2 linked regions of the Homo sapiens genome follow. The protein of the gene in region 2 purifies or fractionates together with the protein of the main gene of each other region. This does not show direct contact. Each region holds a gene or a part of one and is shown on either strand. Other genes may lie near its edges.

The links. Proteins that work in one complex are often made in the same cells at the same time.
Region 1: the proteins of SNPH (region 2) and KIF2A purify together in Homo sapiens (affinity purification with western blotting, with the first as the bait; one study listed by BioGRID). This does not show direct contact.

The regions. Positions count from the first base shown.
Region 1 is NC_000005.10:62,309,098-62,312,751, reverse strand, and holds part of KIF2A (kinesin-like protein KIF2A), read right to left. Parts: intron 1-3,654. UniProt on the Homo sapiens protein: Plus end-directed microtubule-dependent motor required for normal brain development. May regulate microtubule dynamics during axonal growth. Required for normal progression through mitosis. Required for normal congress of chromosomes at the metaphase plate.
Region 2 is NC_000020.11:1,300,649-1,304,302, reverse strand, and holds part of SNPH (syntaphilin), read right to left. Parts: coding exon 3,592-3,654; intron 1-3,591. UniProt on the Homo sapiens protein: Inhibits SNARE complex formation by absorbing free STX1A.

The sequences.
Region 1 (3,654 bases), on a different chromosome or scaffold from region 2:
TTACTCTTGGGAGATAGTTTAATATGGTGAAATTCTAATGTCTCTTTTCACTTAGCACTATAAAACCACTAATATTGCTTTATCTAAAAGAGCTGGAAGACAACTTAACCTGTATTTGTTCTACAACTGAACCAGAAGAATAAAAATTAGTTTTATCCAAGGTTTAAAACTTGTATCTATTCTTAAGAATCGTAATCTCAAAACAAACAAACAAATAAACAAACACCTTAAAATTATTTTAGGTTACAAAACAGATGTGTTAAAATTAAAGCAGATGGCTGAATCCAAGAATTAAACTTTGCAAAAGATTAATGTCATATTAATCACAACTATACTTCTGACTAGAAAGAACGGGGTCTAGATGATCTCTCAGGGAATCTTGTTCTGGATTTTCCACACTCTTGCCCCTTGTCTTATTTGAGCAGACACAGATTTAACTGGCTCTTTGCTGTTTTCTCTAGCATTTTAACAATCATGACACATAAAACAAGTTGACACATAGCCTTTCCCCAGAGTTTCAAAATCTTTGTCATAAGAATCAAGTGGCTAGGCAATGAATACAGATTCCTGGCTTTCTGTGGTACTTTTGGAAGCAATAAGTGCCTATTTTAAGTTTTTTGAGCTTCTTTGGTAGTAGTGGAAAGAATTTTACTACAGGGGTTTGTATGTCTCAGAAAGAAATACTAAAGTATACAACTTCACACCATAATCAGCAAACATCTGTCAGCAGCACTTAGAGAGCTGGGAGTGAAGGGATTCGGGCTTTGGCCCAGGCTATGCTCCTTATTAACCATGTGATCTTGGCAAATAATCCAACCTCAGATTCTTCACCTATAAACCAATAATCTGCCACCTTTCTATCCTGCTTACCTCATAGAGTTCCTGTGAAGATCCAATTAGCTAACATGTCTTGAAGCACTTGGAAAACTATTAAGCCCTAACAAATCCATATACAGAAACATTATCGTCCTAGTCCTCAGGGAAAAGGGAACTATTAGGTCACAAATGCCCCTATTCCATCCCACCCCCATAATCAATCACATAATTGTACCTAAAGAACAACTGTATTGCCACATGGTTCATCTTTATTACTTAAATTTACACATGCTATTCTCCAGAAGCCTATATAGTGACGTGTAAAGATGAACTAGCAGAAGAAAAATGTGGCAAAGCATATAAAGAATTAGGCCATTTAAAATCTTTTCTAAAGATTTTCTTTGCCTGCCCTGAACTCCAAAATTCCTGATGGGTCCTTTGAAATCTTCAATTGCCTCTTGATTTCAGATGTTAAAAGGAACTCTTTACACCAATACTTAACTAAGAAACAAGAATACTTTCCTCCCACAATTTTAGGTTTGGTGAACTTGTAGTAACATAGCACTTCTTACCAGGGATCATTCTAATCAAGCTCTGTAACACTGCTCGCTGGTGCCTTTCTCCGAAGTAAGAAGCAATTTCCTACATCTTGACTGGGCTGTAAAAAGCGGTATACGGTTCCAAAATAACAGAGAATTCCTCCTTTACTGTCATAGTTCTTGATAGTCTGATTTCTATGCTAAGCATGTCAGGTTCCTGGCTGCCATTGACAAGTTGTATGAATCTAGATAAGTCACTTATGGTGATCTGGGACTCAAGTTTCCACATTTATAAAAATGAAAACTAGTTTATCTCCAAAAACCTTTCTGGTGGAAATATTCTAAGATTCTCTTCAGATTACATGTATCAATACAGTCACAGTACTGTGACTAAGAGACCCGCCCCCAAAGAACAATCCCATATTAGCTGCAGCTTCCAAATGTTCAACATTTCCCATTTCTTCCCCAGTCCCCAAAGGGTAGTCACAGCTACTACAGAACTGTTAACAGCACAGCTAAAAGAAAAAAAAAACCAAACTAGCTACACGACAGAAAGATTGTAGGTTTTTTTAAGAGTCAGTGGGTTTTAAAAAGGGAAAGGAATTGAATCAGAAAAATAGGAAGACACATGTAAGAAAACACACCAGTCCAATTTCATACCAGGTTATCTCCTGTGGCAGAGAATAATCTTAGCAGTCCAAGCCTAACCCCTGTCACTGATAACCTTAGAAAACCAGAAAAGTCAGATTAACCTTAGCAGATCACTCAATTTCAATTAACGCTGTAGTTCCTGACTAACAGGCCAGCGGGAAGTAGAGGGCCAGAGTAGGGAGGTAGCAGTACAGAGGAGCACAGATGGAAGGTTTCACTTCCAGCTAAGATGTCATTCTAATGATTAATTAAAATGTTTGAAAACAAAAAATCCAATAATGTATGATTTATTCAAAAACGATGTGCAAGGAATTTTGCTAGACATCCCAGTAGTGGGGGTGGGAATGGGGGTAATGACACAGATGCATTCAGGGAATTTAAGAGTCATTAGAGGCTGGGCACAGTGGTTCACACCTGTAATCCCAGTACTTTGGGAGGCTGAGGTGGGTGGATCACTTGAGGCCAGGAGTTCGAGACCAGCCTGGCCAACGTGGCAAAAACCTGTCACTACTAAAAATACAAAAATTAGCCGGGCATGGTGGCACACACCTGTAGTCCCAGCTACTTGGGAGGCTGAGGCATAAGAATCGCTTGAACCTGGGAGGCAGAGGTTGTAGTGAGCGGAGATCGCACCACTGACAGAGCGAGACTCTGTCTCAAAAAAAAAAAAAAAAAGAATTATTAGTTATTAGTAAGTCCCATTACCCCATGCAGTTTAAAAACATAGTATTAAGAATATGTACCCATAGGTATGAGCTGAGAGGAGTGGAAAAAAAAAAGTTACAGACCCAAACATTAATACTTAAGGAAATATGCTGTCTCATGAATAATACAGAATGATTTAGGAATTCAGATGCTGACTGGCCATCTGGTTTTAGTAATCAGTGAAGACTCATTAGGATAGTTTTCATCATGGTCTTGAAAGATAGGAATAAGCTCATTTTAGTGTACCTGTTTGCCCTTGGGATATGTTTATTAGTGTAAGAGTATCACTGATGGGAAAAGTGTGGTCTGAAATAGGGACATGGATCGCCATCAGCAAGCCAAAAGAAAAACATCAAGTCACCAGTTAATAATGGTCTGAAGCAGCCCTTCTTTACTCATGTCATTTCTACTGTCTCAGATATTAGTGTTCCTCCAACTGCAAAGTTTATTTTTGTTATAATAACCACTAGTGTTTTATCCAATATAGACGTTATGGAAGTGAGAGGAAGCAAACAAGCTTCTTTAAAGTGAAAAAGGGAAAGCTTGAGGGGCATTCTCCCAGACATCAATTTCTATTGTGAAACACTACTGTCCAATGCAAATGATCCTTCTGTTCTTTCGAAGTTCTCTACTAATCTCCTGCCTTCCACCAACTCCATCATGCATCTGAGGCACATAAAAAGATACATGACCATAGGTTAGGATAATAACACACTGTGATGACTTCCCTAATTTCTTATAGGCAAACCGCTTTTGAAATGTGGCTTTAGGTTAGTAGCACTTATGTAAGAACACAAAGCTCTTGTATGTCTGGGAACTTCTGGTATAGGCTGAAGGTGAAGGCTGAAAAGAACGAAAATTGCTTCAAGTTCAATAAATTTAAATAAAATATGCTCCGTAGAAATTAAAATGTATAAATCAAATATCATATACTTTTTCTGAT
Region 2 (3,654 bases):
CTCATGCAGAGCGATGAGAAGTGGTGGGTGGAACGGGAGAGTGATAAGAACAGGGTGGCTCTCATCTATCCATGCTAGAAGCTTCTTTGTATCTTTGTATCTCCTTGTATCTTGTATCTTAAAGAGGAAAAGCTGAAAAGATCAACGAGAAAGGCATAGAGTTACTCCTGAGCGACGGGGGCAAGCACCAGGTGAACAAGATAGTCGGCAGACTCTTGTCCAGAAATGCTCAGGCTTTTCAAATTCCCGAGTCACAGATGAATCCAGGGGTGCAAGGGGAGGGAGGTAAGTTAGAAAAATATGCCATCAGGTCTAGAGGTAAAACCAGAGTGAGACAGAATGGCGACTGATTAACACCAGTGAGGAAGAAGGAAAATCATCCAGGAGACGTCAAACCCTGTCCTGGGCATTTTCGCTCACTTCCTAGTGGCAGCCCACATGAGCCCCCTCAGCCTAAACCCTACATTCCCATCCGTAAAATCTACAAATGCCGTGCCTGTCACTCTGGGGTTCATCAGCCCAGCAGAATGACCGTCCCAGATCAAGCACCATATACTTTTCAAAGCCAGATCAGAATTTTCCTTCAGGAAATGGGCCCAGGAATCTCATTCCACAATACGCTGGAGGGACTGGGGGCTGAGGGGATGCAGTGGCCATAAAGGTCAGCAATGGTGTCACCTAGAAGGGGCCCATCCACCCATCAGGACACAGCTGGAGCTGCTTAGAGTGCCAATAACAGACAAGGCAACAGGTACTGAGGGGCAGGAGATACTTGGCCTTCACCCTTCCTGCCTCCAGGTGGGGGGCCCACTCTAGGTAACCCTTTTGGCCTCTCACCCTGCTCCTCACTCACACCTCACCCTGGGAGAAAGAGTGAGTTTGAAAGAAGGAACTGGGCATGATCTGCTCAGCCAGTCTCTGCCTCTCTCTCCTTGGGGCCCAGCCAAACCCCAGGGAGCCATGGCTTCGAGCCCTGTCCACGCCTCAGTGGGCATCACATCTGAAGTGCGTCTTGAAGGGTAAGTCTGCCCAGGGAGCAAGATAGAAGGCAGGGCATCTCAAGTAGTGGGGACACAGATACGAAAGCACAGAGGTGCAAAAGCCATGGTGTCTTTGAGGAACAGAAGGTGGGCCACTGCAGGAAGCACAGGCATGAAACTCCATATGGAGAGAGTGTGGGGAGAGTGACAGTATTTCATGTAAAGACCTGCAATGGGTTCCTGTGGGAGTAACAGGCAGACAGTGACCAGGGAGTCAAGGTGTTAGCACACCTACACCAGGGCATCCTGCCCAAACCACACAGGGCAGATGGTCTGCTCTAAGCCATGGGGCTGGCCCTAGAAATGAAGCTGGGAGATGGGCCATCTGCTCCCTGAGGCATTAGTGCAAAAGGCCACGCAGATCCTGGGCATCATTGGGAAGATGAGGGAAAATAAAAATAGAAATCCTCCCTCTGCCGACAATGAAGCTCGCTGAATGCTACCCGTAACCGCCTGTAGTTTAAAACCACAACAAATCCAAACCGGATTGGCTGCTTGGCAGAGCTGTGGTCAAGAACGATGTGGTCATGCATACAGCGTGATCCCATTTATATGAAATGTCCAGAATAGACAAATCCATAGAGACAGAAAAATCAGTGGTTGCCAGGGACTATGGTGGTTGGAGAGAAACTGGCGGTGATTGCTAATGGGAATGGGGTTTATTTTGAGGTGATAGAAATATTGATGAAATTAGAAATTGGCGGTGATTGCTAATGGGAATGGGGTTTATTTTGAGGTGATAGAAATATTGATGAAATTAGAAATTGGCGGTGATTGCTAATGGGAATGGGGTTTATTTTGAGGTGATAGAAATATTGATGAAATTAGAAATTGGCGGTGATTGCTAATGGGAATGGGGTTTATTTTGAGGTGATAGAAATATTGATGAAATTAGAAACTGGCGGTGATTGCTAATGGGAATGGGGTTTATTTTGAGGTGATAGAAATATTGATGAAATTAGAAATTGGCGGTGATTGCTAATGGGAATGGGGTTTATTTTGAGGTGATAGAAATATTGATGAAATTAGAAACTGGCGGTGATTGCTAATGGGAATGGGGTTTATTTTGAGGTGATAGAAATATTGATGAAATTAGAAACTGGCGGTGATTGCTAATGGGAATGGGGTTTATTTTGAGGTGATAGAAATATTGATGAAATTAGAAATTGGCGGTGATTGCTAATGGGAATGGGGTTTATTTTGAGGTGATAGAAATATTGATGAAATTAGAAATTGGCGGTGATTGCTAATGGGAATGGGGTTTATTTTGAGGTGATAGAAATATTGATGAAATTAGAAATTGGCGGTGATTGCTAATGGGAATGGGGTTTATTTTGAGGTGATAGAAATATTGATGAAATTAGAAATTGGCGGTGATTGCTAATGGGAATGGGGTTTATTTTGAGGTGATAGAAATATTGATGAAATTAGAAATTGGCGGTGATTGCTAATGGGAATGGGGTTTATTTTGAGGTGATAGAAATATTGATGAAATTAGAAATTGGCGGTGATTGCTAATGGGAATGGGGTTTATTTTGAGGTGATAGAAATATTGATGAAATTAGAAATTGGCGGTGATTGCTAATGGGAATGGGGTTTATTTTGAGGTGATAGAAATATTTATGAAATTAGATAGTGGTAATGGTTGCAAAATTCTGTGACTAAACTAACAATCATCTAATTGTACACTTTTGATAGGTGAATTATATGGTATGTAAGTTACATTGCAATAAAGCTGCTGTATTAAAAAAAAAAAAGAAAGAAAAGAAAAAAGGAGCGATCATCGTGCCTGCTCTGAGCTCCAGCCCCACACAGCACCTTGGCCAGCTCACAATAGGCTGCATGTTTGCATAGACACAGTCCCGAGAAGGATAGTTAAGACAATGGGAGATCGACGCCCTGAAGTGTAGATCACAAAGATGAAGCCACTGGGCTTGGAGGGTAGAAGCTGGGAGGGTTGGGATTAAGCACTTGAGAATGAGCTCAGACGGCCTGCGGGGGCTCCTGGGAGACACCTGGGCTGGGGAGGAGCTCAGCAAAAGGCTTCTCATCATCATCCTCCACAGCAGGAAGTAGATGGCTTCTGGGGCCTGAAGTCGAGGTTGGCCACAAGCCCTCTGGTGACTCACTCAGGAGGAAGCGAGGAAGGATAAAGAGTTGTTTCTCCCCCAAAAGAGGCAAGTAAGTCAGAAAGAAGCCCTGTGCTCCAACTCCTGGAAGATGGGAGCCAGAGGAAAAGAAGCAGCCAAAGGAGCTGCCAGGCTGAAGCTGGGAAAGGACAGCACAGGCAGGAGGCCCCACAGGACAGGCCCTCATGGGAAACTGCTCCCGCCTGGCCCCCAACAGCCTCGTGGAGCAGTCAAGGTGAGTAGCTGCTGGGGATGAGGGTCTGCAAGTGGGCTCAAATGAGGCTTTGCTGGGAAGGAGAGAGCAGACGGATGCTGGGAGACCCCCAGCCACTCCTCCCTCCAAGAGGCACCCCAGAGCCCTGGTTTCCCTGAGTGTGGAGCTGGTGGGGTACCCCCAGGGCTGCTCGTGGCCACCCGCTCACCGGTCCTGGAGCCGGTCCTGTGTGTCCTTCAGCCGGGCTTTCAGGTGCCGGATGCACACCTCC